Regions from separate parts of the Homo sapiens genome. Here all the other regions are linked to region 1. Evidence: fine-mapped expression QTL. A gene starts in region 1. Each other region holds a variant in brackets. All regions are shown on one strand. Distances are from middle to middle. Region 1 holds the start of PLEKHG5 (pleckstrin homology and RhoGEF domain containing G5). Region 2 overlaps NOL9 (nucleolar protein 9). Region 3 has its middle 3.3 kb from the start of KCNAB2. Region 4 overlaps ESPN (espin). Region 5 overlaps NOL9 (nucleolar protein 9).

Evidence for each region. PIP is the estimated chance that this variant, and not a neighbour inherited with it, causes the effect.
Region 2: its variant is fine-mapped to the expression of PLEKHG5 in follicular helper T cells (Schmiedel 2018, PIP 0.95).
Region 3: its variant is fine-mapped to the expression of PLEKHG5 in fibroblasts (GTEx, PIP 0.97).
Region 4: its variant is fine-mapped to the expression of PLEKHG5 in cerebellar hemisphere (GTEx, PIP 0.96).
Region 5: its variant is fine-mapped to the expression of PLEKHG5 in whole blood (INTERVAL, PIP 0.96).

The regions. Positions count from the first base shown.
Region 1 is chr1:6,488,805-6,493,971 of GRCh38, forward strand. PLEKHG5 (pleckstrin homology and RhoGEF domain containing G5) reads right to left here and starts at 2,863. Exons shown (of 21, transcript NM_020631.6): 1 at 2,833-2,863. RefSeq lists silencers at 1,154-1,513, 1,924-2,013, 2,074-2,153.
Region 2 is chr1:6,520,010-6,525,009 of GRCh38, forward strand. NOL9 (nucleolar protein 9) reads right to left here. Exons shown (of 12, transcript NM_024654.5): 12 at 1,338-5,000. It also overlaps a transcript of PLEKHG5 not described here. Among named protein-coding and RNA genes, the nearest start is that of PLEKHG5, 31 kb to the left of the region's middle. RefSeq lists a silencer at 1-214 and an enhancer at 280-574. The variant G/A (reference allele first, on the strand shown) is at 2,736.
Region 3 is chr1:6,039,993-6,045,159 of GRCh38, forward strand. It overlaps a transcript of KCNAB2 not described here. Among named protein-coding and RNA genes, the nearest start is that of KCNAB2, 3.3 kb to the right of the region's middle. The variant A/G (reference allele first, on the strand shown) is at 3,185.
Region 4 is chr1:6,460,633-6,465,799 of GRCh38, forward strand. It overlaps ESPN (espin), which reads left to right. Exons shown (of 13, transcript NM_031475.3): 13 at 1-312. TNFRSF25 (TNF receptor superfamily member 25) reads right to left here. Exons shown (of 10, transcript NM_003790.3): 2 at 4,808-4,928; 3 at 4,456-4,590; 4 at 3,920-4,087; 5 at 3,743-3,821; 6 at 2,440-2,495; 7 at 2,231-2,338; 8 at 1,997-2,034; 9 at 1,362-1,542; 10 at 154-1,130. The coding sequence ends at 802. Among named protein-coding and RNA genes, the nearest start is that of TNFRSF25, 3.0 kb to the right of the region's middle. The variant T/C (reference allele first, on the strand shown) is at 2,738.
Region 5 is chr1:6,538,737-6,543,736 of GRCh38, forward strand. NOL9 (nucleolar protein 9) reads right to left here. Exons shown (of 12, transcript NM_024654.5): 6 at 3,094-3,191. It also overlaps the pseudogene RNU6-731P. Among named protein-coding and RNA genes, the nearest start is that of NOL9, 13 kb to the right of the region's middle. The variant T/C (reference allele first, on the strand shown) is at 2,811.

The sequences.
Region 1 (5,167 bases):
AGGCTTGTGAGTCAGGGCCGGCTTGTTGAAACTGATACCCAGAAACCAGATGCGGAGGCTGATGAATAATGGAGTCTCCAAGGCAGGACCCCCGCACCCGGCTGTTCTCCCTCAGTATCACCTCCCCCAGCCCCAGAAAAGCAGATGGGAAACCAGGGATCCCCCAGGCATCCCTGCCCCACAACGAGCTGGGGCCCCAGCCTGGTCTGGGTGGGAGAGGGACTTCCCTGTCCAGGAAAGGACGCAGGTCTGGGGCCAGCTCCAGGCTCTGCCGACAGCAGACGGGCCTGGAACCAGGAGTCCGAGCTCTCTGGCTGGAGGGATGTCCTTGCCAGGAATTCCCACCAAGGCTAAGCTCCCCTGGGAGCCTGCTAGTCCCAAGGCCCCACCCAACACCTTAGAAATCCAGGGGTGGAGACTGCATGCATGGGCAGGCCAGCCAGGGCGGGGTGGCTTTGCCAGGCGGCTCTCTACGCTCCACCCGGCCTACCCACCCTCCTTTCCCCTAGGCCCAGGCCTCACCCATCACCCCTTGGGTTCTGAGGCTCACCTGGAGTCAGAGCCTGACCTAAGGCCCTGCCCTGTGCCGGGCAGATGGCAGGGACACAGAAAACCTCTCCCCAGGCTAAGCCCACCGCACGGGCCCTGGAAGCCAGGAAGGCCCCTTCCTCCCCAGGGAGCGGTCCTGGCTAGTATGCCCAAGGCTGGGACCCAGTGCTAGAGAAAGAGGGAGGGGCTGCAGTCTGTGAACATCCCCTCCTGCCCAGCCTCTGCAGTTCCCAGCCCCAGACCCCAGCGTGTGTCTTCGGAGCACCTGGACTAGCAAGCCCTTCCCCGGTGCAACTTAGAAGCCTCCTTGGTAGGGAGCGGGGGAAAGAGGGCACCTGCCTGGGCTTCAGAAGACCTGGTCTGGAGCCTACGTTCCCCCACCCTTCCCCTACTGGGCCTCAATTTGCCCACCTGTGCCAAGAGGGCATAGAATTCAGTATCTGGGGATGGCTGCCAGGTCCTAGTGTGTGCCCGGACCCCGGCTAAAGGGCAGGAGAATGGTAAAATACCCCCGAGCTCCCTCAACTTGAGGAGTTACTAAGGAATCTGCAGGGGACCTCTTGGCCTCCATTTCCCAGACTTCCACCAAGGCAGGCCAGGGCCTCCCCGGATTCACGGGTCTCCCGCATCCCCCACCCCTAAGTGGGTGCCTGGGTCTGCTCAGACTGCCCGAGGCGCAGCCTCTGGCGCCCCCTGCCGGCCTCGAGAGGGCTTTTCCGCCTGGGACCGACTCCGGGACTGGCCAGATGGGGAGGATCGGCTGAGCCTCCCAGCCACGCCGCGCGCCCGGGCCCCTCCAGGATCCCCCTGCCCCGCCAATACCCCCCATACCGGGGCCAGGGTCCCATAGACTCCTCACGGCCCTATCTCCGAGCCGACCCACCCTAGAGACACTGTGATGGGGGCGGGAGCTTGAACCCATTCCACCCTCACGTAAATGGAGATACAGCTGGTGAGGACCCTGTACCCACCCACAGGCCTGGCACTACGTGGGAATCTCGAATCCGGGTTCTGTCCATCGGTTTAGGGGGGTCCTGGCGCCTAGTCCCACCCCCCGTCCGGAGCGCAGCTCCCACTTCCCCGCGACTCACCTAGGAACAGGACCAGGGTCTCCTCCCCGGTGTCTAAGGCTCTAAGGCTCGGGCCGAGACTGCCAAAGCCTCATGGGGCGCGCGGGGAGAGGGGGACGGGAGCCGCGGGACGGGCTCAGTCGACTCAGCGCAAACTGGGGCGCGGGACGTAGGGGAATTACGGTAGCCGCGCGGGCGCTACCACCTGGACCGGCCGGGATGTACCAACGGCGCCGCCCGGCTGGGACCGGGGAGAGGAGGGGTCCCAGGAAGGGCCCCGCGCCGGAGCCAGGGAGGTGGCTGGAGGCCGGGCGGTGGCTTGGGGTAATCCAGGATCCGGGCTCAGGGGAGGGGGTGGGGGGCGTCACTGTCCCCGAGGGGCCAGCCCTTTGCAGATCTCCAAAAAGTTCAAAGTCCCTGGTCATTAACTTGGGCTTGAAGACGGGAGCTCGCCCATCCCGGAAGGGGGCTAGGGGGGACCAGGGCCCGCGACAGGAAGCCTCCGCGCGACAGAAAAGCCCCGGGGGACCAGGCAGAGAGACCCGCAGGCCTAGCCCGCCCCGGAATCGCCCTGAGCCAGGTTCGCTTCCGCTCTATTGTAAAAAGCTGGATTCTGATCTGCGGCCTCCGCGGTGCCCCAGAAACAGCCCGCTTTTCTCTGGGCCCCCTCTTTTTTTTTTTTCTGGCCCAGGTGATATGGCCGGAAAAGGGTGCTGTTCTGCCATTTAGTGGTTCCCAGTTCCCCTCTCCCAGCAGCGGGAGTTTAGAATAACTCTGGGCTCAGGACTGGGAAGGGTGTGGATACAGGGGGCCCACTCGAGGAGGTGGAGTTCAGGTCCACCAACCTGTTCCGCACTTTCAAGCTTTTTATACAGCCTTCCCCCGACCCCTTCCCAGGCCAAAACCTCCAGACTGCCCCACACAACCCTTGGGGCTGGGCCTATACTAGGGCAGCTCCTGGCTGGGCCAGGGATCCCCACGTCTTCACCTGCTCCCCCAAAACTACTTAGCCAAAACCCAGGAGTCCCCTTGCATTGTTTCTCTGGCCCTGCCCGTTTCTTCAGCTGCAGATAGCCCCACCACCTCTCTCCGGGGACCAGTCACTTCCAGAGATGGCCCAAACCTGGCCATTCCCTGGGGCATCCTGGTCTGCCGCTGCTCACCCCCAAAGCATTGCCCAGGAGAATAGGTGATTGCCTCTCCCATTACTCACATCCTGCCCGTCCCTTCTCCATGGGGGCCTCAGGTCCACCCTTTCCTCTCCCTGGTCTTCATCTCACCACCCCTCCCTCCACACACGCATACCCTGACTCATCCCTGCCACCTCACAGGCCATTGTTAAGCTGCAAGGGAACTCTGAAGTCCTCCCATCCAACCTCCACTCCACACTGCAATCCCCTCTACGCTTCCCTTTCTGTCTCTTCTTGCATATGTCTAGTGATGGGGTGCTCACTACCTCCACTTCGGGGATAGCTCCAGCTGCTGGAAACTCTTTCCTGTAGTGTGCTGAACCCCACCTCCCTGTCAAGGCCTTTGGGAGCTGTGCAGAAAAATTCACCTCCCTTTCCTCCTGAGAGTTCTGAGGAAATGGGAGGCTCTGACAGAGAGGCCTGGTTTGAGTCCTGATCTTGCCTTGCTTGGCAAGTCATTTTACCTCGCCACTCTGCAGGGCCCTCTCTAGGAAACGGAGATGGGGTAGGCCCCACCGCAGCGGGGGAGGCGGCCAGATGAGGTTTCTGTGCCAGGCGCTAAGGCAGGGCCTGGCATACAGTACGTGCTGGATCAATGGCGGCTGCTGGAATCACTACCTCCTCCATGATAAACACCCTCACATGTGGTGCCCAATGTCCCCTGTGGCCCAGGGCCACAAGTGTCCTCCTCCATGCCCCCTTGTGACCTGGGACGCCCTGACTAGACCTCGAACAGTGCCCAGTGGAGCCCAGCAAGGAGCTGGGGAGTCCACACACTGTCCCGTGGCCACCTCACAGGAGGGCAGGGGGAACCCACAATATCATTAGTCTGCCTTGATCTCCCGGCCTTTCTCCATCTCCCCAAACTCACAGCTCCACCTGTGTGCAAGAAGCTGGGATGGAGCCTGGGGAGGTCTCAGATCCCAGGGCAGGTACGGAGGGCACACCCAAAGTCTAGAGGTGACTTTGTTACCCCCACTCCCAGGACACCTTGCACACCTACGCTGTGCTAGGCTCTATGCTAAGCATGTTATATATGGGCCTCTTTTAATCCTCGCTGCCGGGTTATTTTCCAGATGAGGAACCTGGGGTTCAGAGAAGTGTAGTGACTTCCCCAGGGTCGCACAGCTGGAAAAAAGTAGGTTTGATCCTGGAGCTCAGAGGTGTGGACTGCTCTACATATCTTCATCCTGGGGAGGGGCCATTTCTCTCCTGGGGTCTCCATGACACACAGTCCAGACCCCTCATCTGGACATGCAGGTGCTCCTAGTGCAGCCTGCCTCCCCCTCCTCCCGTCCCCTTCTCCCTGTGCCCCCTGGCCTCGCTTGCCCCTTATAGCCCCCAATGTCCCCCCCTGCTCACTCAGCTGTCCTCCATCTCAGTACCTCTTTAATCCTCAGGACTCCAGTTGCCTCCAGGAAGCCCATCCTGGTTAGCCCTCCTCCCAGTGGGAACTCCAGGGGCAGGAGGTAGGGGACAGATGGCAAATTCATCTCAGAAGCTCCAGCACCCAGGAGAGCCTCAAATAAAACATCAAGGGTGGGCCCAGAAGCCGAAGGGTCCAGCCCTGCCTGAAATTGGTCCTTTGCCAGGGCAGCCTGGGGGGAAGTTTGGCCAGCCAGGGTCACTTCCCTTCCTTCCTCCCAGCACAGCTAGAATGTCACCTCCAGGAGGGCATCCCCTTTGTTCTCTGGAGATCTCCTGGGCCTAGAACTGGGCCTGGCACCGACAGATGCTCAGAGCTGGTCTGGTAAATGAATAAATGAAGTCATCTCCTTCAAAACGCTAGTCACATCCTGGAGAGTAAGAATAGGGCTCTTGATCAGACAAGCCTCACGCAGGCCAGGCTCTGACGATCATGCTGTGTGATGTGGGCAAGTTCCTCTACCTCTCTGGGCCTCCGTTTCCTTACAAGTCATGTGGTCATAAGAATAACGCTGTTCTCCTGAGGGTCTCAAGAAGCTTCACTGAGACAAGCAGGAGGGCCTAACGCCCCGCCTGGCATGTAAACATGTTCGGTCAGCAATAATTGTTATTATTATTATTATTGGGTGTTTTTTGAGACAGAGTCTCGCTCTGTTGCCCAGGCTGGAGTGCAATTGCGTGATCTCAGCTCACTGCAACCTCCTTCTCCAGGGTCCAAGCGATTCTTCTGCCTCAGCCTCCTAAGTAGCTGGGATTACAGGTGTGTGCCACCATGTCCGGCTAATTATTTTTTATATTTTTGGTAGAGATGGGGTTTCACCATGTTGCCCAGACTAGTCTCGAACTCCTGACCTCAAGTGATCTGCCCACCTTGGCCTCCCAAAGTGCTGGGATTACAGGCATGAGCCCCTGCGCCTGGCCTGTTATTTTTGA
Region 2 (5,000 bases), 31 kb after region 1:
GGTGGCTTTCCCCTGCCAGGCAGAGAGGGGCTGGTCACAGCGGGAGATCAAGTGAGCCTCAAAACATTAGAAAAACCCAAGCCAGTCTGCAGAGCACCGCAGCCGCCTCAGGGCCGGTTACCATAGCTACCCTTGGCTTCCCAGCCCAGCACATGTCTGCCCAGCTGAACTCTGCTGATTCGCAAGACTTTGCTTGCTCAGCTCCTGGCACTGCAGACTGGACCTGCTGCCCCCAACTCGGCGGCTACCGCTCTTCCTGGCAAAGCCTTGGGAATACTTAACTTAGCAAGGTCTTTCTGAAAAGGCCCTGAACATCACGTAGGCTTCCCCACTTACTGCATAGATGGCCCCCATATTTACTTTAGCCACTGTTCAGGCTGGGCTTGTCAGCCAATCTCTCTCTGCTAGGCCCAACCCTATGAGGTGTGGGAAGACAAGGGCTGAGTCCTCGCTGCCGAGAGGCAGTTTTATCGGCACAGCACTAGGTGGGGGTTTGTTTCAGTTTTTTTTTTGTTTTTCTTTTAAGTAGATGGTGTCTCACTATGTTGACCAGGCTGATCTCAAACTCTTGGCCTCAAGTGATCCTCCTGCCTCAGCCTTCCAAGGTGCTGGGATTACAGGCATGAGTCATTTTAGTTTTTTAAAACTTGAACTCTTCCAGGAGCAAAGCCCTGTTTCCTTCTAATACACTCCCAAAGACAGTCCAGAAAGAATGCAACATCCCCTCTTTACTTACATATGAACCAAGACAGGAAAATTAAACTCCCACTTGAGCTTCAAGTCAGTGACAAATAAAAATTAAAAATACTGAAAAAATAAACTCCCACTGCACTCAATACTTCAATGGTTAAAAACAACAACAACAAAACAGGCCAGGCACAGTGGCTCATGCCTGTAATCCCAGCACTTTGGGAGGCCGAGGCGGGTGGAACACCTGAGGTCAGTTTAAGACCAGCCTGGCCAATATGGTGAAACCCCCTCTCTAGTAAAAATACAAAAGTGAGCTGGGTGTGGTGGTGCCTGCCTGTCGTCCCAGCTACTGGGGAAGCTGAGGCAGGAGAATTGCTTGAATCTGGGAGGTGGAAATTGCAGTGAGCCGAGATTGCACCATCGCACTCCAGCCTGGGCAAAAGAGACTCTGTCTCAAAAAGAAAAAAAAGGGCACAACAAAACAAACAAACAAACACATCACAAGCATTTGCTGGAGTCTCCACACTTCATTAACCGCCTTTCAACATTTTTTTTCCTCCCAGTGTTTTTTCACTATAGTTTCTTCTAAGCATTTAAGTGATTACCTGGAATAAAATGACCTATCTACATAAAATTACACAACTAAATTCATGTTTTCAAAAATATTTAATGATACAAAAGTTCATCTGTTAACTGAAAAGAGCTGAACAGAAACCATACATATTTTGTAAAATACACACACACACAGCAGAACCCCAGCTGAGACACCTCACAGTGTCAGTGATTACTATGTGGTGGTGGGCTGGAGGATCATTTTCTACATGTGTAAGCTGCTTATAAAATTTTAAAAGCAACAAGTGGGGGTTTATGAAAAACTTTCAGGAATGGGTTATCTATGGTGGCCGTGGAGCTTGCTTCCTCAAGGGCTCTTTGACCACAGGAAGCTTGGTAGCAACAATTTTAAGGTGAACCTGCCAGAGGCAAGATGAGTAAGTAGCTGTGGATTCATTTAGTTTCTGCATCCCTCCAGCATGACCGTGAGTAGCACAGCCGTGGTGCCAGCCTCCTGAGTTTACCATCTCATCAGAGGCTAGCTACACACTAGGAGTTACTGACCGTTTCTACATGCCGGAGACTGTGCTACATCTCTTATAGACATGACTTCACTTACTCCTCACCCAGGAACACTGAAGGAAGGACAATTACCCAATCTTCAAAACATAAAACAGGCTCAGGCTAAGCATCTTCCTCCAAGTTACACCACTGACAAGTGGTAGAGCCAGGATTTGAACTCAGAGCTCTATAATCAAAGCCTGCTGTCTTATCCATGATCTTGCCATCCAAACCCAAAAACAAATGACCTAGGCCGGGCGCGGTGGCTCACGCCTGTAATCCCAGCACTTTGGGAGGCCAAGGTGGACGGATCACGAGGTCAGGAGCTCGAGACCAGCCTAGCCAACATAGTAAAACCCCATCTCTACTAAAAATACAAAAAAAATTAGCTAGTGTAGTGGCGGGCGCCTGTAATCCCGGATACTTTGAAAATTACATACAAAAATTACTAAGAGGCCCAGGCACAGTGTCTTATGCCTGTAATCCCAACACCTTGGGAGGCCAAGGCAGGCGGATCCCCTGAGGTTGGAAGTTCGAGACCAGCCTGACCAATAAAGTGAAACGCCATCTCTACTAAAAATACAAAAATTAGCTGGGTGTGGTGGCAGGCGCCTGTAATCCCAGCTACTTGGGAGGCTGAAGCAGGAGAATCGCTTGAACCCAGGAGGCAGAGGTTGCAGTGACCTGAGATCAGGCCACTGCACTCCAGCCTTGGCGACAGAGAGTCCGTCGCAAAAGAAAAAAACAAACAAACAAACAAAAACTAAGAGCTTTTGTAAAGAATAGCTTCAGGCCAGGCGCAGTGGCTCACGCCTGTAATCCCAGCACTTTCGGAGGCCAAGGCGGGCGGATCACGAGGTCAGGAGTTCGAGACCAGCCTGACCAACATGGTGAAACCCTGTCTCTACTAAAAATACAAAAATTAGCTGGGC[G/A]TGGTGGCATACGCCTGTAATCCCAGCTACTCAGGAGGCTGAGGCAGGAGAATCGCTTAAACCTGGGAGGCGGAAGTTGCAGTGAGCCGAGATCACTCCACTGCACCCCAGCCTGGGCGACAGAGCTAGACTCTGTCTCAAAAAAAAAAAAAAAAAAGAAATTGCTTCAGCACTTTGGGAGGCCGAGGCAAGCGGATCACAAGGTCAGGAGATCGAGACCAGCCTAGCCAATACGGTGAAACCCTATCTCTACTAAAAATATAAAAATTAGCCAGGCATGGTGGCGCTCACCTGTAATCCCAGCTACTTGGGAGGCTGGGGCAGAAGAATCACTTGAACCCGGGAGGGGAGAGGCTGTAGTGAGCCAAGGTCGTGCCACTGCACCCCAGCCTGGGTGACAGAGCGAGACTCTGTCTCAAAAAAAAAGAAAAAAAAAAAAGAATAGCTCCAATGGAGAACTCCTTACTACCTAATCTGACCCATAACAGACTGTGGAAATGATAAAAAGTCCAATCTTGTCCTTCTTCTAAATGCCCTTAAAGCCACTGCCACCAGCCGGGTGCGGTGGCTCATGCCTGTAATCCCAACACTTTGGGAGGCCAAGGCAGGTGGATCACCTGAGGACAGGAGTTCAAAACCAGCCTGGCCAACATGGTGAAACCCCTTCTCTACTAAAAATAGAAAATCAGCCAGGCATGGTGGCGCATGCCTGTAATCCCAGCTACTCGGGAGGTTGAGGCAAGAGAATCACTTGAACCCGGGAGGCGGAGGTGGCAGTGAGCCCAGATTGCGCCACTGCACTCCAGCCTGGGCAACAAGAGCGAAACTCCATCTCAAAAAAAAAAAAAAAAAAAAAAAAGGATAAAAAGGCCACTGCCATCAATAATGGGATGAATTGTCATCCTGGAGAATGGTGCTGCTGCAGGTCTGACCGGCACAAGCTAGACCTGACAGAGGCCTTGGCTCCCTGTCTCCGAACCTCCTTCCCTAAACCCTGTACAGCTTCCTGGGCCAACTCTAGCCCCAGTACGGCCACCTGACCCACAGCTGATAGCTCCCTCTAGAGGCAACGATTTTTCTTTACTGATAGGGACTGAAGAAAAAGACTTGACCTTCATACAGGCCGCATTTAAAGCCTGAAGGCAAACCTAGATTGAATGCAAATGCAATTACAGGGCACCAGTTTCATTCTTCCAGAGCCTTGCTGCAAATGACCTCCAGTGAGTATAACTGTAAGATACACGAAAGTGGAGAAAGGCAAAACATTGATGGTGATGGATTGTCTTAAAATTCTTTACAAGGCCAGCACAGTAAAACATCATATGAATGAGCCAGATTTCAACATAAATAAGGGGCAACTAAGAAGCTAGACTCAATTGTCTCAAAGGTATCAAAACTAATCACCATAGCAAGGTTTCCTGTGCTTATTTTAAGTCCTTTGCTGTTGGGTCTAAGAGGTGCTGAGGGGCCACTGTAAAATACTAAAGACAATGATAACCAACAGTTGTATAAGTGTATATAAGTGTTAAAACCCACACATCCTAATAGTCTTACAATGTGATCATGCTGGGAAGATGGAATTCTGTCAAAGCGGTGGTCACAATACCAGTTTGAACCTCAGCCCCAGGAAGTATCCTGCTGTCTTAAATGCAGAAATGATGTGACCTGGTCCCATCACCCGTTTACACAAACCACTTCCAACCTAGAGGACAGAGTCGGAAGCACCAGGGAGAACGTGGAGAATGGCAGTCTGGTCACCAGCCGCCGGCACCCCCAGGAAAAAGCTCTAAATGGCAGGGTTGTTCATAGGTGCAAGTTCAGGTCCAGCCTCCCACAGGCAATAATGGAGCTTTCCCAAGAGCTGGTCTGCCAGTCCTTCTTCCTTCAAAACAGCCCAGTCTCCAGCTCTGCCCTGTGGTTGTCTCTGGCCTCAGATCAGAAGTCAATTTGGACAAATCTACTTTTATAAGAGCCCCCAGAAGAGGTTTTCCAGATTATTATTTTTTTTTTTTGAGATGGAGTCTTGCTCTTGTTGCCCAGGCTGGAGTGCAGTGGCGTGACCTCGGCTCACTGCAAGCTCCGCCTCCTGGGTTCATGCCATTCTCCTGCCTCAGCCTCCTGAGTAGCTGGGACTATAGGCGCCCACCACCACGCCCAGCTAGTTTTTTGTATTTTTAGTAGAGACGGAGTTTCACTGTGTTAGCCAGGATGGTCTCAATCTCCTGACCTCGTGAACCGCCTGCCTTGGCCTCCCAAAGTGCTGGA
Region 3 (5,167 bases), 450 kb before region 1:
GGAGCTGCGGACATCAGTGGCATCTGAGAAGCTGCCTGACTTAGGAGCTCAATGGCAGCACCAGGAAGCTGCACTGGGCTGGAGTCAGGGCAAGGGACAGTGTCAGCGATGACCCTGGGGGACAGCAGTGCAGTCAGGAGCTCAGAAAGTACACAGATGCCCCCTGGGCGGTCTCTTCTGCACCATGTGGGCAGCAGAAACTACACCTACGGTTTCAGAACAACAGTTGGGGTGGTGTGGAAGGACCTCCACGACATATAAGGTGGGAGTGTGGAGTGATGGAGTGTGGAAACCCTTCTCACAGTTGTCACCTGCTCTCCAGCCCCTCCTGAGCCCGTGGACCTGCCTGCCTGCCGTGTGTCTGTCTGTCGTCTGTCTGTCTGTCTCTCTGCTGAGGGGCTCCCCGATGCCCTGAACCCAGACAGCCTCCTCAGCCTTTGTGATCCCAGAGTCTCCCGGCCAAACCTGGTTGATCTTTTTTAACCACCACCCTCTTCCCCTCCCTTATTTTGCTTTTCTTCCAGAATTTTCCCACTGTAAAAAACCGAGCAAGTCTGGATAAGTGAGGCTGGCTCCATGTATCCAGAATCAACGACGGGCTCCCCGGCTCGGCTCTCGCTGCGGCAGACGGGCTCCCCCGGGATGATCTACAGGTGACCCCCTGCCCCCTCACCCAGGCCCCCTCCCAGGGTCAGTCCTGCTTCGAGGACGGGTTCCCAAGGCCACTGTCCTCCCCTCTGGAGGTGGAAGGGCCCAAGCAGGGCCCACAGGCTTCTGCCTTCCACGGGGTTTTGAGGTGCACGCTGGTGAGCGTTTTCTCCAAGAAAGGAGCAGGGGCTTTAAAAACCCAAGTGGGAAAGAAAAACCAAAACTTTTCCAGGGCGTTTGAGCCAGAGTAGACTCCTTTCTTGTCCCTGACCCTTCCGAAATATCTCGTTTGAGGTTAACAGAGCGGCCGGACAGTGAGTGCACGGCCAACCCCGGCATCCTGTTCCTCCCACTTTATACATCGCAGCCCCTGTGGCCCTGCCAGTTTCTCCTGAGCGAGGATGACGACCTTGCAGGCCTTTGGGGAACCACGTCTGCCGGTTTCCCAACACTGGAGGGAGTGGGGGCGGCCAAATGCTCCTGGGGCATCCTGACCCCCTCCTTGTGGAACTCACTTCCGCTTGCAGCCCTGGGTGTTTCTGTCTGCACCATAAACAGCGCTGAACATCAGCGACAGCTGCGGAGGGCGTTCAGTGAGAGCTGAGCCTCTGGGGACAGAGCATAGAACCCACGAAAGACGCAGGCACAGGCAGTACCCCAGCAGCCCATCAGTCTTGGGAAGCCAGACCTTTCCGGATAATCACTGGGGCCTGAGCCAGAGCCCGTGTCTGTGACAGCCACAGGGAAAGGCAGTGTCTGTCCTAAGAAGAGCCAGGCGGGCAGGTGCGGGTTTGCCAGCACGCGGGTGCTCTGCACGTCTGGGTTGGAGGGTTTTCAGCCATTGCCCACAAGCATATTGCAAAGCAAGTCCTGAAGCACATTCAATCCAAACCAACCCTCACTCGGAGGTTCACCACGGAAAACAGGGCCTGGCATGGAAGGAGCCCTTGGTGTCCAGGAAACTGGCTCCGGGTCTCTGCCCCGTGGCCACCGGGTGGCGCTGCTGCAGAGCACTTGGCACCGGCTGCGCTTCCTCAGAGACTGCCCTGAGCAGGCGACTGGTGGGGGCCCGGGGGCATGGGACATTGGTGGTTCTTTCTGACCTGCACCTGCTGGGGTTGATGCCAACTGTGGACTCTCTCTCTTCTCTCCCTTTCTCCTTTTTCTCTTTTCTCCATTGCTGTCCGAAGTACTCGGTATGGGAGTCCCAAAAGACAGCTCCAGTTTTACAGGTAATGAGTCTTCATTCTCCCTAAAACCCAGCGAGCCGAAGGCCAGGGAGCGGGTGGGAGGACTGCACCCTTGCCGAGCAGGGTGTGCTGGTGTATTCTCTGAAGCCAAAGCCCCCGAGACCCCCAGGCTCTGCTCATCACCCTCTGTGCCTACCCACAGGATGCTGTGCAATGTCCTGATGGAAAATGTGAAGTCAGGTTAATTGTATGTGTTGGTCTGCCAGAAGTTTGCTTTGATTTGAGCAAATGGGCTTTTGATGACTGCCAAGCTCTCAGCCAAATCTACCGTTAAAGCTTCACTCATCAGGCAGTGAGGGAGATGTCTTCCTGTGGTCACCAGCTTGCCCTGCTTCCATTATCAGAGTACAGGACGTGGCGAGCCCATCCGTTCCCCCTTTGCCTGTGGGTTTGACCTGATCTGGAACTCACAGAGCTCCTCAGGCTCATTGAAGGTTAATGCCTGCTTGGGGGTGTGCAGTACTGATACGACGTGGATCAGTGACATCTTTCTGATATGTTTTTCTGTTGGTGAATTAACAAACCGGGCACCTGGCGAGAGACTGTGCCCCAGCAGGATGTGACATCAAGATGCCAGGCTTAGGGCCCTGCAGGGTGCTCTTGGGGAGACCCGTTCCTCTCTCTGGGCTGCCTCTCCCTCACCTGTAAGGCAGGGGATGCATGTTCTTGGTGCAGCCTCCAACCCTAGGAAGTAAAATGTCAGGGCTGCCTGGAGCCCATGGGCAGCAGCCTCCCCATGCCTTGGGACTGTTTGGGGAATTGGCACGGCTTCTGGCAGCAGGTCCCTGGTATGCATTGCTGCATCTTGGCGGTCAGGCCGGGAGGTCTCTCTATTCGGACCCGGACATCTGGTAACAGTGCTTTGGGGATCGTTGCCAATGTGCCAGGCAGTGGTCATGGAGGTGGCAATGTATTTCCATGTAGCTTTTCTCTCCCCGCGCCCCCACTCCCCACCCCCCCCCCCGTTTGCCAGCCATAGCACCTCTGATGGGGACCGTGGACCTAGATGCTCAGAGTGATCTGTGCCACGCCTTCAGTGCCTCCTCGGAGGTCCTGCTCCTTACAGGGAGCTCTGAAGACATGGCCAACTCTTAGATCCTACTGAAATTTTGGTAGATAAGATTTTGCTTAAGATAGTTAAATCTGAACTCCGGCTTGCAAATGCTTTCCCTGGATGAAATGTTTGTATTGTGATGTATGTACACATGGTATAACAGATCCTAACAAACATATGCCGCTCATCCCAGGGGATTTCATCAGTGAAACAAAACATGTACCTGAACTGC[A/G]TCCTCAGAGAGCCGGGAGCAGCCTCAGTCCTCAGAAGGGAAGGGGTGAGGTCTGATGAGCAGGCAGGAAAATCCCAGGTGCAGACCTGCCAGCTCAAAAGGGCTGCCCACAGGTACAGACCATCCAGCTCCAAGGGCCTGCCCCTAGGAGGGGCCAAGTAAATTATCCAGTGACCAAGTGAGAGCCTTCCAGCCCACTCAAGGCCCTCAAAACCCCACAGGCTCAACATGTTGTCCCCCCCGCCGGGATCCCTGTGCTTAAGAACCTTCATTTCCAGGTGGCCTTCCTGGCCCCAAGGGAAGCTCTGAAGCTTACCCTCTAGGCTCTCAGCCCCAATTCTGGTGCCCACAGGCTCTGGCCATCCTACCCGTTGGATCTCCAGGGGGTCACTTGGGTGTCTCTTGTGGGGGCTCTGGAGATGACCTCTAAGGGCTAGGGTCTTTGTTTGTTAACAGGCTGGGGGCCACTCCTAGTAGGGCACCCTCATCACACCAAGCATACCACTAAACATGGCTATTGGATGGTTCTTTCAGTTACTTAGGCCTGGCCCTCTCACAGGGCAGAGGCGTTCAAGGCATGTGCCCTGCCCCCATGCAGCTCCCAGGCAAGGAATTGGCATAGGACACTGTGCCAATCAGCTGTCCACCAAGTGCTGCATAACAAACAACTCCAAAACTCAGTGCCACGCAGCAATCAGCATCTCTTCCTTGCTCCCGTGTCTGCGGGTTGACCAGGCAGCTCGTCTAAGCTGGCTTGGCTGGGTTTGTCTCCAAGCTGCAAGTTGGATCCCCATGTCCTCCATCTTCCCATGCTTAACTGGGGCCTACCCCAGGCATGTCCTTCCCATGGCAAAAGTACCAGAGGAAAAGCAGAAACATGCAGGGTCTCTTACGGCCTATGGTTGGGGTCAGAGCGCTGTCACCTCTGCTCACGTGCTTTTGGCCAAAGTAAGTCTCAGGAACCAGCCCACAGTCAAGGGGCTGGAAATATATTGCCCCCACCAGTGGGAGGAGCTATAAAGTCACATGGCAAAGGGCATGGGTACAGAGAGGGGTGAAGGATTGGGAGCAATACTTCCATGTACCCCAGGTCTCAAATAGCCCTGATGATCTCCAGAAGGCAGAGCACGTCACAGGAGAAGCCCAAAGAGCATTTGGGGTCCAAGGAAGGAGGGGCCACAGCCAGCTGAGAGCCAAGAAGACTTCACGGAGAAGGCAGCAGGGGCTTGGATCTGGTCCTTGAAGGCTGGGCAGGATTCAACGCAGAGGCTGGGAAGCATATTCCAGTAGATACAACAGCCTGAGCCACAGCTCAGAGGTGTGCACAGAGAACAGGAAGTGACAGTTACCCAGCCTGGGCCATCAGGGACATGATGGAGAATAAAGAGAGGCTGGCTGTAGAGGTGGATGTTGGTGGGGGGCCTCGAATGCCTAGCGATGGGGCACAGATGCACTCAGAGGGCACTGGGGAGCCATCTATGGTGTTTGAGCAGGGCAGGGGTCAGAGATCTGCTCTAGGAAGGAAGCCTGGTAGCAGGGAGTAAGACAGGGAAGAGAGAGGCTAATGCAAGGAGACCAGACAGTGCCCAGGAAAGGTGCAGGACGGCTGAGCTCCAGGAACTGCACAGAGAGAGAATGAAGGGGTGCAGGGCCTGAAAAAAGGACGTCAGAAGCCACGTCCACAGGGCTTGGCCACTGATGGGCAGGTGCTGAGACAGAAAGGGACAGAGAGGAGCAGTGGACCCAGGGAAGGAGAGGGCCTCATTCGGAGCATGTTAGGCTGCAGCTACCACCCAGTAGTGAGGCGCAGGCCCCCCGACCAGGGCGACATGTGGGGATCTGACAGAGTGGGCTTGGGCCTTTGGGGACAAACCATTTCAATTGCCAAGGCCTTCGCAGCTAGTCACCCGCAGCCAGGCACCTCCAGACTCTACGTGCTCTCCCAGCCTCCCACTTCATTTACCTTCCACACTGCGACTGGGG
Region 4 (5,167 bases), 28 kb before region 1:
CGGGCCTCATTTCTTATCCCCGCCAAGGGTTTCCTCTCAGTCATTTGTTTACCAGAAACATGAAAACTGCCTGTCTGGCCGGGCCGCACTTGTGGCCCCCGGGACCCCACCTCTGGCCCCACCTCCCTCAAGTCTGCGCCCCGTCCCCAGCCAGACCCACTCGCTGCCGGGACCCTTTCACTGCCCCGGTGGAGTGAATAGAGGATGAGGGGCCCTGACCCTGTGTCTCCAACTGCTGCACCCCATCCCGACCCTGTCTCCGCCACCTCGCAGCCCCATTAAAGCGCTCTCATCTGGGCTCCGGTTCACTCACTCGCTGTGGCCGCGACTTGCTCTCTCCTTCTCGGGGTAATTGAGCCAGAGTGGACTCGGGAGGGGCAGGCTTGGGAGCTAAGGCCACACTGGACTCCACCATGGGTGCCAGATCCCGGGGTGACAAGATTCCCGTCCCCTTCGAATCCCTCGAGAAAAGTCCAGTCCACTTAACACCCCAGCCCCGCAGAAACGCCAAGAAGCCGTTTTTGTTTTGTTTTGTTTTCTTTCACAGATTTAATACCGCGATCTCAGCCAAACTCCGGCCGAGAAGTTGAGAAATGTCTTCACCCCCTCTCGACATTCGTTCGTGCTTCTTCGCCTTGGCTGGAGCGATAGGGGCGAGCAGGGGTGGGGCCGGCTGGTGCTGCTACGCAGGGCCGTGCCAGCGGCTTAATAAGTGACATAAAATGTCTACACGCATAAGTAACCGTACTTAGGGCTTCTGCAAGGGCCACCAGAGCGCCTAGGTGGCAAGTGGGCGCCGTGTCACGGGCCGCGCTGCAGGCGGCTGCGCAAGTCTTCCACGCAGCCGTCCAGCCCCATGCGCTCCAGGGCCGCGTAAACGGCTCCGAGGCCCGCGGGCTGCTGCTGGCGCCAGCGCTTGAGCATCTCGTACTGCTGGTCTCGGAAGCGGCCGATCTCCACCTCCACGGCTTCGATCTCTGCCTCGCGCAGCCCCAGCGTGCGCACGAACTCCTTCCAGCGCCGCGCTGGGACCGCGTCCATCACGTCGTAGAGCTGCGGGCCCGGCTGCAGCATCATGGCTGGCGAGCCGGCTGGGGACTCTGGCGAGAGTGTGGGCGCAGCAGCGGGGCCTGGGGCAGGGCCAGAGAGAGCCAATTGGGGTACGTGGGCCGCGGTCGGGAGGCAGAGTCAGGGGCGTTCGTGCGGGTACCCCAGGGCTGAAGCCCGCTGGATCCGGTGGGTCAGGGCATAGGGCGGACTCCGTCAGTTAGGGGGCAGAAAGGGAACACGTTGTGAAACCACAACTTCCCACCGCAGACAGGAGAATGGGGTCAAGGCCTCAGGCCACTGATGTCCCTTACCAAGAGCTCTGCTGGGCAACTGGTCCCAGGACCATGTCACCTGCGGGCAGAGCGCCTCCTGGGTCTCGGGGTAGCCAGGGGTCCAGCTGTTACCCACCAACTGGACGGTGCAGATCTTCTCACTGCTGTCAGGAGGTGCTAGAAGGGTGTGGGCGCTGTCCAAGGGTGACAGATGGGTGGCCTGGAAGCCAAGAGGGGCCCCAGGTCAGCCCTGCTTGCCAAGTAAGGCCCCTTACCCGCAGTGCCTCTCCAGGAGGGGACAGTCCCTGGTTCAGTCAGCAGACACCCCCGCAATGACACCTCCCACAGTTGGCCCTGCTCTCACTGTAGCCCAGCAGAACTCTTGCTTCTGCCTTGAGTCCCCTGCCCCCGCCTCCTTCCTCTTGTCCCCCAGCACCATGGGGCTCTCCTTCCATTGAACTGTTAGCTCCTGTGTACGAATCTGAACTCCAGCTGACTGAGCACCCCTTGAGGGCAGGCACTGTGCTGGTCTCATCCACTGATGACTCTGCTCCCAACACCTCTGTCCACTAGGGCTACCCGGTGCTGGCCGCGTGCCAAGCTCCAGGGATCATAGTAAGGCTTGATCTTCCAGCTCCAGAAGGCAGCCCAGAATCACACAGTGAGGTTCTTACCGGTGGTGGGGTCAGAGCCTCCATCCCAGCTTCATCTGCTGACAGACACAGAGAGATTGCGGTCAGCCACCAGGCAAGCCTCCTGGACCTGGGTGCTGGTACAGCTCCTCTAGGGTTCCTCTGCACCCCACACTCCCTGCCTCAGTTTCCCCTTCTGTATCAGGGTTGAGTAGACTCTGGGCTACCCATCCTGACCCCAGGCTTCTGGGTGCGTGTGTGGGTGTGTGTACTTACCAGTAACCAGGGGCTTGTGAGGCCAGCAGTGGCGGTATGTGTAGGTCAGGGTGGCCCCAAGCAGGAGGGGGACCACAAGGCCAGCCAGGAGCACCTGGACCCAGAACACTGAAAGCAGCTGGTGGGTGTTGGGTGGTTGCCCCCCTCCTCACCCGCCTCCCCTCGGTCCATCCCAGTTCTCCCACTCGCATTCCCAGCACACCACCTACTCTGCCTCCAGCCACAGACAGCGGCACAGCGCTCTGGACAGCTCCCCAGGGTGCTCCTGCAAGGGACGGGGGTGGCCTGAGGGATGAGGGGGTGCATGCCAGGAGGGGCTCCCTAAGACTGCCCAGCATCTGCTCCATCCTAGAGACCCTTCCCTCCCCAGGCCTCTCACTCTACCCAAGAATGTTCCTGTCATTGTGTCCCTGGTAACAACCACAGACACTATTCACTGAGCTTCTTCTAGACTACATGAAGAGTCACTAGAATGTCAACCCCAAAAGGACAGGGATTTTGCCTATT[T/C]TGTCCCCTGTTGCATCCCCAGCACCTAGAACAGTGTGTAGAACATAGCAGATATTCAATAAAGACTTGAATGGAGGCCGGGCGCGGTGGCTCATGCCTGTAATCCCAGCACTTTGGGAGGCCAAGGCGGGTGGATCACGAGGTCAGGTGATCAAGACCATCTTGGCTAACACGGTGAAACCCCGTCTCTACTAAAAATACAAAAAATTAGCCGGGGGTGGTGGTGGGCTCCTGTAGTCCCAGCTACTTGGGAGGCTGAGGCAGGAGAATCACTTGAACCCAGGCAGCAGAGGTTGTAGTGAGCCAAGATCGTGCCACTGCACTCCAGCCTGGGTGACAGAGCAAGTCTCCATCTCAAAAAAAAAAAAAAAAAAAAAAAAAAAAGACTTGAATAGCTACAGAAAGTCCCTTACCTCTGATCAAAGGCCTGTGAATTAGCTGCTAACATCCCATGTTGAGAAAGGGACACCACACATCAGAGACGCGAATTCTCTGCACTTGCCCAAGATCCCCTAGAGAACTAGCAGCACAGTCCTGACTCTCAGCCCTTTGTATTTATTTATTTAATAGATTTAATATTTAATATTTAATAGATTTAATATTTATTTATTTATTTAATAGGTCTCGCTCTGTTGCCCAGGCTGAAGTGCAGTGGCACGATCATAGCTCACTGCAGCCTCAACCTCCTTCAGCCCAAGTTTTAAAGCTATATCAATGTGACTCTCTGTGTAAGTGACAAATCATCTGTAATATCTGGCTAGGATCGCTGGGGGGAATGCTGGCTGAAAGTGAAGGCAAATACCCTTATGTATCTGGCTAAGGCGGATCCAGATTGCTCTTTTGCCATCTAAGTTTGCCTGAAGTGGGGCCCACCCATCACAGGGCCAAGGCTCCCTCCTCCCTATCCCCTCTTCCTATTCCTGAACCAGCAGCACCTGCCCCACCCCAGGCCCCTGCTCTGCTCCCAGCCGCCCTTCCCTCCATCCCACGACAGCTAGGAATTACGTGGGGCAGGACACGCAGCCATCGCCATGTTCATAGAAGCCAGGCAGGCAGGTCCCACAGTCAGTATCTCTGCGGGAACCTGCAATCCAGGAGAGGCATGCGTCACCATGGGACAGGAGTGGGTCAGGCAGGGAGAAGGGGGTCTGGGAGTAGAGAGCCCTGGGTGGGGGTACTCACAGAGTAGCCGTGTGTGGCGGTGCAGGGCCCCGCAGTCTAGGCATGGTTGGCAGTAGAAGGGTGAACTGCTGACACATTGGCTGACCTGGCACTCCACAAACCAGCCTGGCTTACAGCCACAGCGGGTGTCGGCCACTGCTGAACAGTTCTCCAGCGCCACCTGGGAGGCTGGTGGGGGTGCAGGGAGATGGGGAGTGGAGAGTTAGTCAGGGCCAAAGGCTCCCATGGAGAGGCAGAGGCATTATCCCAAGATAATGGAGACAGAAATAGGCGAAAGACAGACAGGTACAGGGCTACCCTAAAAAAGAGAGAAGCTCAGAGATTAAGGCCGACCAGAGGCCAAGGCACATGGAGAGATGGGAAGGTCACCAGGAAGAGAGAAGGGGCAAGGGCACCCTGAAGGAGGATCAGGGTGGAGGGTTCTGGCAAGGGTGGGTGCAGGACCCTCACACCCCAAGTTTGGGCCCGAGCCAGCCACTTCCTTCAGAAAGGCCTGTCCTTAGGAACTCCCTGCCAAGCACTGAGAAGCCCCTCACCCTGCTCATCACAGGCCTGGCAGCGGGCACATTCAGAATTATGGTGGTTCTCCCAGGCCAAGAAGGTGTCTTGGGGACACACAAGGCAGGTGGAGTTGCCGCAGGGCTCCGTGCAAGGGGCCTTCAGGTAGTGCCCTGTGGAACCAGGCAGGGGTCAGGCAGGCAGAGGGGCTGCCCAGCAACCCCCGACCTGCTTCCCACCCTGCCCTCCCTCCCTCTTTCTCTCCAGCTCCCTACTTCTCTGTCAGCCTACCCCTACCTCCCCTGCCAGCCTCCTCTTACCTCCCGGGCCTGCCCGCCACCTCTCCAGCCCTGCCTGCCCCATGCCTCTCCCACCCCTGTGGCCACTTACCCGCTGGGCAGCCTCTGCAACAAAACAGACCAATCTTCTTGTGGAAGTCACCGGCACAGTCACACCTGGGGCTACGAGTGCCGCCCTGGGCCCGGGCCCCCAGCAGCACCAGGAGGAGCGCCTGGGGGACAGGTGCTGCTGACTCTCAGCGCAGCTGCCCACGTGGGGCCTCTCCCTGCTGCGTCTCCTCCATTTCAGAGGCCCCAGCATTTGCCCACAGAGCAGCCCACTTCCCAGGCCCCGGGCAGAAGGGGTGCCCATGGGTGGAGAGGAAACTAACTTCCTTCCCCCCGCGCACACACCAGGCTTCGGAGGGGGCGCTTACCAGCCCCTCACAAGTTTCCCCTCCACCAGAGCAGG
Region 5 (5,000 bases), 50 kb after region 1:
TTTTGGGATGCTGAGGCAGGTGGATCGCCTGAGGCCAGGAGTTCGAGACCAGCCTGGCCAATGTGGTGAAACCCTATCTCTACTAAAAATACAAAAATTAGCCAGGCGTGGTGTAGTTCCAGCTACTTGGGAGGCTGAGGCAGGAGAACTGCTTGAACCCGGGAGGTGGAGGCTGTAGTGAGCTGAGATCACGCCACTGCACCTCAGCCTGGGCGAAAGAGCAAGACTCTGTCTCAGAAACAAACGAACAAAAAAAACACACAAGCAATATTCAAGGACTGGAACAGACATTTTTCCAAAGAAGATATACAAATGGCCAATAAGTACATGCTCAACATCATTAGTCATTTAAGGGAATGTAAATGAAAACCAACATGAGACATTACTTCACACAAACTCAGACAGCTATAATCAAAATAAGCATTGGTGAGGATACGGAGAAATCAGAACTCTTGTGCATTGCTGCTGGGAATGTAAAATGCAGCTACTGTGAAAAACAGTTTGGCAGTTCTCAAAACATTAAACACAGAACTACCATAAGACCCAGCAATTCCACTCCTCGGTATACACCTGAAAGAACTGAAAGCAGGATATGGAGGAGATATTTGAATACCCATGTTCATAGCAGGATTATTCACGAAAGCCAAAATGTGGAAAGAAGCCAAGTGTCCCTTAACAGCTGAATGGATAAACTAAATGTGATATACACATACAATTGAATAACATCCAGCCATCAAAAAGAATTATTATTATTATTATTTATTGAGGCAGAATCTCACTGTTTGTCACCCAGGCTGGAGTGTAATGGTGCAATTTCAGCTCACTGCAGCCTCTACCTCCCAGGTTCAAGTGATCCTCCTGCCTCAGACTCCCAAATATCTGGGACTATAGGCATGGACCACCAAGCCCAGCTAACTTTTGTATTTTTTTTAATAGGGACTGGGTTTCACCATGCTACCCTGGTCTCAAACTCCCAGGCTCAAGCAATCTGCCGGCCTTGGCCTCCCAAAGTGCTGGGATTACAGGTGTGAGCCATGGCACCTGGCCAGGAATTAAATTTTGATACATGCTACAACATGGATGGATTTTGACAATACTATGCTGAGTGAAATAAGCCAGACAAAGGATAAGTATTGTGTGACTCCACTTACATGAGAATAGCCAAATTCATAGGGACAAAAAGTAGAACAGAGGTGAAGTCTCTAGGGGCTAGGAAAGAGGACAAGAGGAGGACAAGAGGGAGTTAAGGGAGTTACTCTTTTTTTTGAGACAGAGTTTTGCTCTTGCTGCCCAGACTGGAGTGCAGTGGTGAGATCTCGGCTCACCGCAACCTCTCCCTCCCGGGTTCAAGCGATTCTCCTGCCTCAGCCTCCCAAGGAGAGTTATTCTTTTTTTTTTTTTTTTGAGACAGAGTCTTGCTCTGTCGCCCAGGCTGGAGTGCAGTGGTGAGAGCTCAGCTCACTGCAAGCTCCGCCTCCTGGGTTCATGCCATTCTCCTGCCTCAGCCTCCCAAGTAGCTGGGACTACAGGCGCCCGCCACTACGCCTGGCTAATTTTTTGTATTTTTAGTAGAGACGGGGTTTCACCATGTTAGCCAGGATGGTCTCGATCTCCTAACCTCGTGATCCACCCGCCTTGGTCTCCCAAAGTGCTGGGATTACAGGCATGAGCCACCAAGCCCAGCCGAGAGTTATTCTTTAATGAGTACAGTTTTCATTTTGGGATGACAAAAAACCACACCCGACTAATTTTTAAATTTTTTGTAGAGACAGGGTCTCACCACGTTGCAAACACAACAAAAAAGTTGTGGCCAGGCACAGTGGCTCATGCCTACAATCCCAGAACTTGGGAGTCAGAGGTGAGTAGATGACCTGAGGTCAGGAGTTCGAGACCAGCCTGGCCAACATGGTGAAACGCTGTCTCTACTAAAAATACAAAAATTAGCTGGGCATGGTGGCGTGCGCCTGCAGTCACAGCTACTCAGGAGGCTGATACAGGAGAATAGCTCGAACTCAGGAGGCGGGGGTTACAGTGAGCACAGATCACACCACTGCACTCTAGCCTGCCTAGGTGACAGAGCAAGACTCCATCTTAAAAAAAAAAAAGCAAGCAAGGTGGTACTTACTCCAGCAGCACATATACTAAAAAACTGGAATGATACAGAGAAGACTGGCAATGGGCCCCGCACAAGGATAACATATTATTTTTTTTAAGTGATGTAGAACTGTGGATAACTGGTGAATTTTCAATAAAATCTGTAGACTGGTTAACAGCGTTTTTTTTTTTTTTTTTTTTTTTGAGATAGAATCTCACTCTGTTGCCCAGGTTGGAGTGCAGTGGAATGATCTTGGCTCACTGCAACCTCCACCCCTGGGTTCATGCGATTCTCCTGCCTCGGCGTCCCAAGTAGCTGGGACTATAGGCACGTGCCACCAAACCCAGCTAATTTTTGTTTTTTTGGGTTTTGAGATGGAGACTTGCTCTGCCGCCCAGGCTGGAGTCAGTGGCTTGACCTCAGCTCATTGCAACTTCCGTCTCCCGGTCAAGCAATTCTCCTGCTTCAGCCTCCCGAGGAGCTGGGACTACAGGCGTGCACCACCATGCCCAGCTAATTTTTGTATTTGTAGTAGAGATGGGGTTTCCCCATGTTGGCCAGGCTTGTCTCGAACTCCCTACCTCAGGTGATGCACCAGCCTCAGCCTCCCCAAGTGCTGGGATTACAAGTGTGAGCCACCACAGGCAGCCTGATTAACAGTATTGATTCAGTATTAATTTCTTAGTCTCGATAGTTGTACATAAGATGTTGAAAT[T/C]AGGGAAACATGTGTTTCTAATTTACATAAAACAAAATAATTTTTGCCACCATACCCAACTAATTTCATAAAACAAAATGAGTAGCAGTTCCATTTCCTAAAATGAGAAAGCACCATAGTTTGTTTTTTGGAGGTTAGAGGAACAAGTTATGGAAAGACCATGAGTTTGGTAGGCGCATGTTCCCTTTTAATATTTTATACTCTTCGATTTCTGAGTTTTTGTTAGCATCATCACATATGAATTTCATAAAACCAAGACATTTGAGAAATATGTAATACATACCCAGAACTGGTTCTGTAATATTAAGCAAAGAAATGCAACCAGGAGGGGTAAATTCTGTCTGTCCCAGATCACATTCCAAATAGTCAACGCAGGGAAGACTGCAAATTTTTAAAAAAGAAAAAAGAAAGAAAATCCTAACTAGCTTTACTCAGTAGAAAGGATAATCACACAGTAAAGATTTCATGTGACACGCAGGCATAATCCACCACACACAGCACTTTAGAAGTGAAGCCTCAAGATGACAATCGCTGTTTAAAAACGAGTCCAGAGAAACGCAGTGCAGGCATGGTCACAATGTCCATTTGTAACACGGATAACAACTTGCTCTTTCAGATTTTTTTTTTTTTTTTACGATGGAGTCTCACGCTGTTGCCCAGGCTGGGCTGCAGTGCACAATCTCGGCTCACTGCAAGCTCCACCTCCTGGGTTCATGCCATTCTCCTGCCTCAGCCTCCGGAGTAGCTGGGACTACAGGCACCCACCACCATGCCCGGCTAATTTTTGTATTTTTAGTAGAGACAGGGTTTCACCATGTTAGCCAGGATGGTCTCGATCTCCTGATCTCGTTCGTGATCTGCCCACCTCGGTCCCCCAAAGTGCTGGGATTATAGGCCTGAGGCACTGAGCCCAGCTGAATTTTTTTTTTGAGATGGAGTCCTGCTCTGTCGCCCAGGTTGGAGTGCAGTGGCGCGATCTTGGCTCACTATAACCTCCGTCTCCCGGGCTTGAGCAATTCTCCTGCCTCAGCCTCCCAAGTAGCTGGGATTACAGGCATGTGCCACCACGCCCGGCTAATTTTTTCTATTTTTAGTAGAGACGGGGTTTCACAGTGTTAGCCAGGATGGTCTCGATCTCCTGACCTTGGGATCCGCCTGCCTCAGCCTCCCAAAGTGCTGGGATTACAGGCATGAGCCACCGTGCCCAGCTAATTTTTGTATTTTTAGCAGAGACAGGGTTTCACCATGTTGGCCAGGCTGGTCTTGAACTCCTGAACTCAAGTGATCCACCTGCCTCGGCCTCCCAAAGTGCTGGGATTACAGGCATGAGCTAACACTCAGCCATTTTTCATATAAGTTTATTTTTTCTTGAGACAGGGTGTCACCGAGTCACCCAGGCTGGAGTGCAGTGATCAGAACTCACTGCAGCCTCGACCTCCTGGGCTCAAGCAATACTCCCTCCTTAGCCTCCCAAGTAGCTGGGACCACAGGCACATGCCACCATGCCTGACTAATTTCTAAATTTTTTGTAGAGACAGGGTCTCATTACGTTGCCCAGGCTGGTCCGAAACTCCTGGGCTCACGCAATCCTCCTACCTCAGCTTCCCAAAGTGCTGGGATTACAGGCAGAAGCCACGGTGCCCAGCCTTTTTTTCTTTTTTTTTTTTGAGACAGAGTCTTGCTCTGTCGCCCACGCTGGAGTGCAGCGGCACCATCTCGGCTCACTGCAAGCTCCTCCTCCCAGGTTCACGCCATTCTCCTGCCTCAGCCTCCCGAATAGCTGGGACTACAGGTGCCTGCCACCACGCCCAGCTAATGTTTTGTATTTTTAGTAGAGACGGGGTTTCCCCGTGTTAGCCAGGATGGTCTCGATCTCCTGACCTCGTGATCTGCCCGCCTCAGCATCCCAAAGGCTTGGGATTACAGGCGTGAGCCACTGCGCCCAGGCTTTATTTATTTATTTATTTATTTAGAGACACAGTGTCACTCTGTTGCCCAGGCTGGAGTGCAATGGTGTGACATAGCTCACTGTAGACTCGAACTCCTTGGCTCAAGCCAGCCTCCCACTTTTGCCTCCCAAAGTGCTGCGACTGCAGATGTAAGCCACCATAACCCACCTCTGTTGTTGTTGTAAAGGTAAAATTTCAGATCTGGCATGGTGGCTTATATCTGTAATCCCAGCACTTTGTG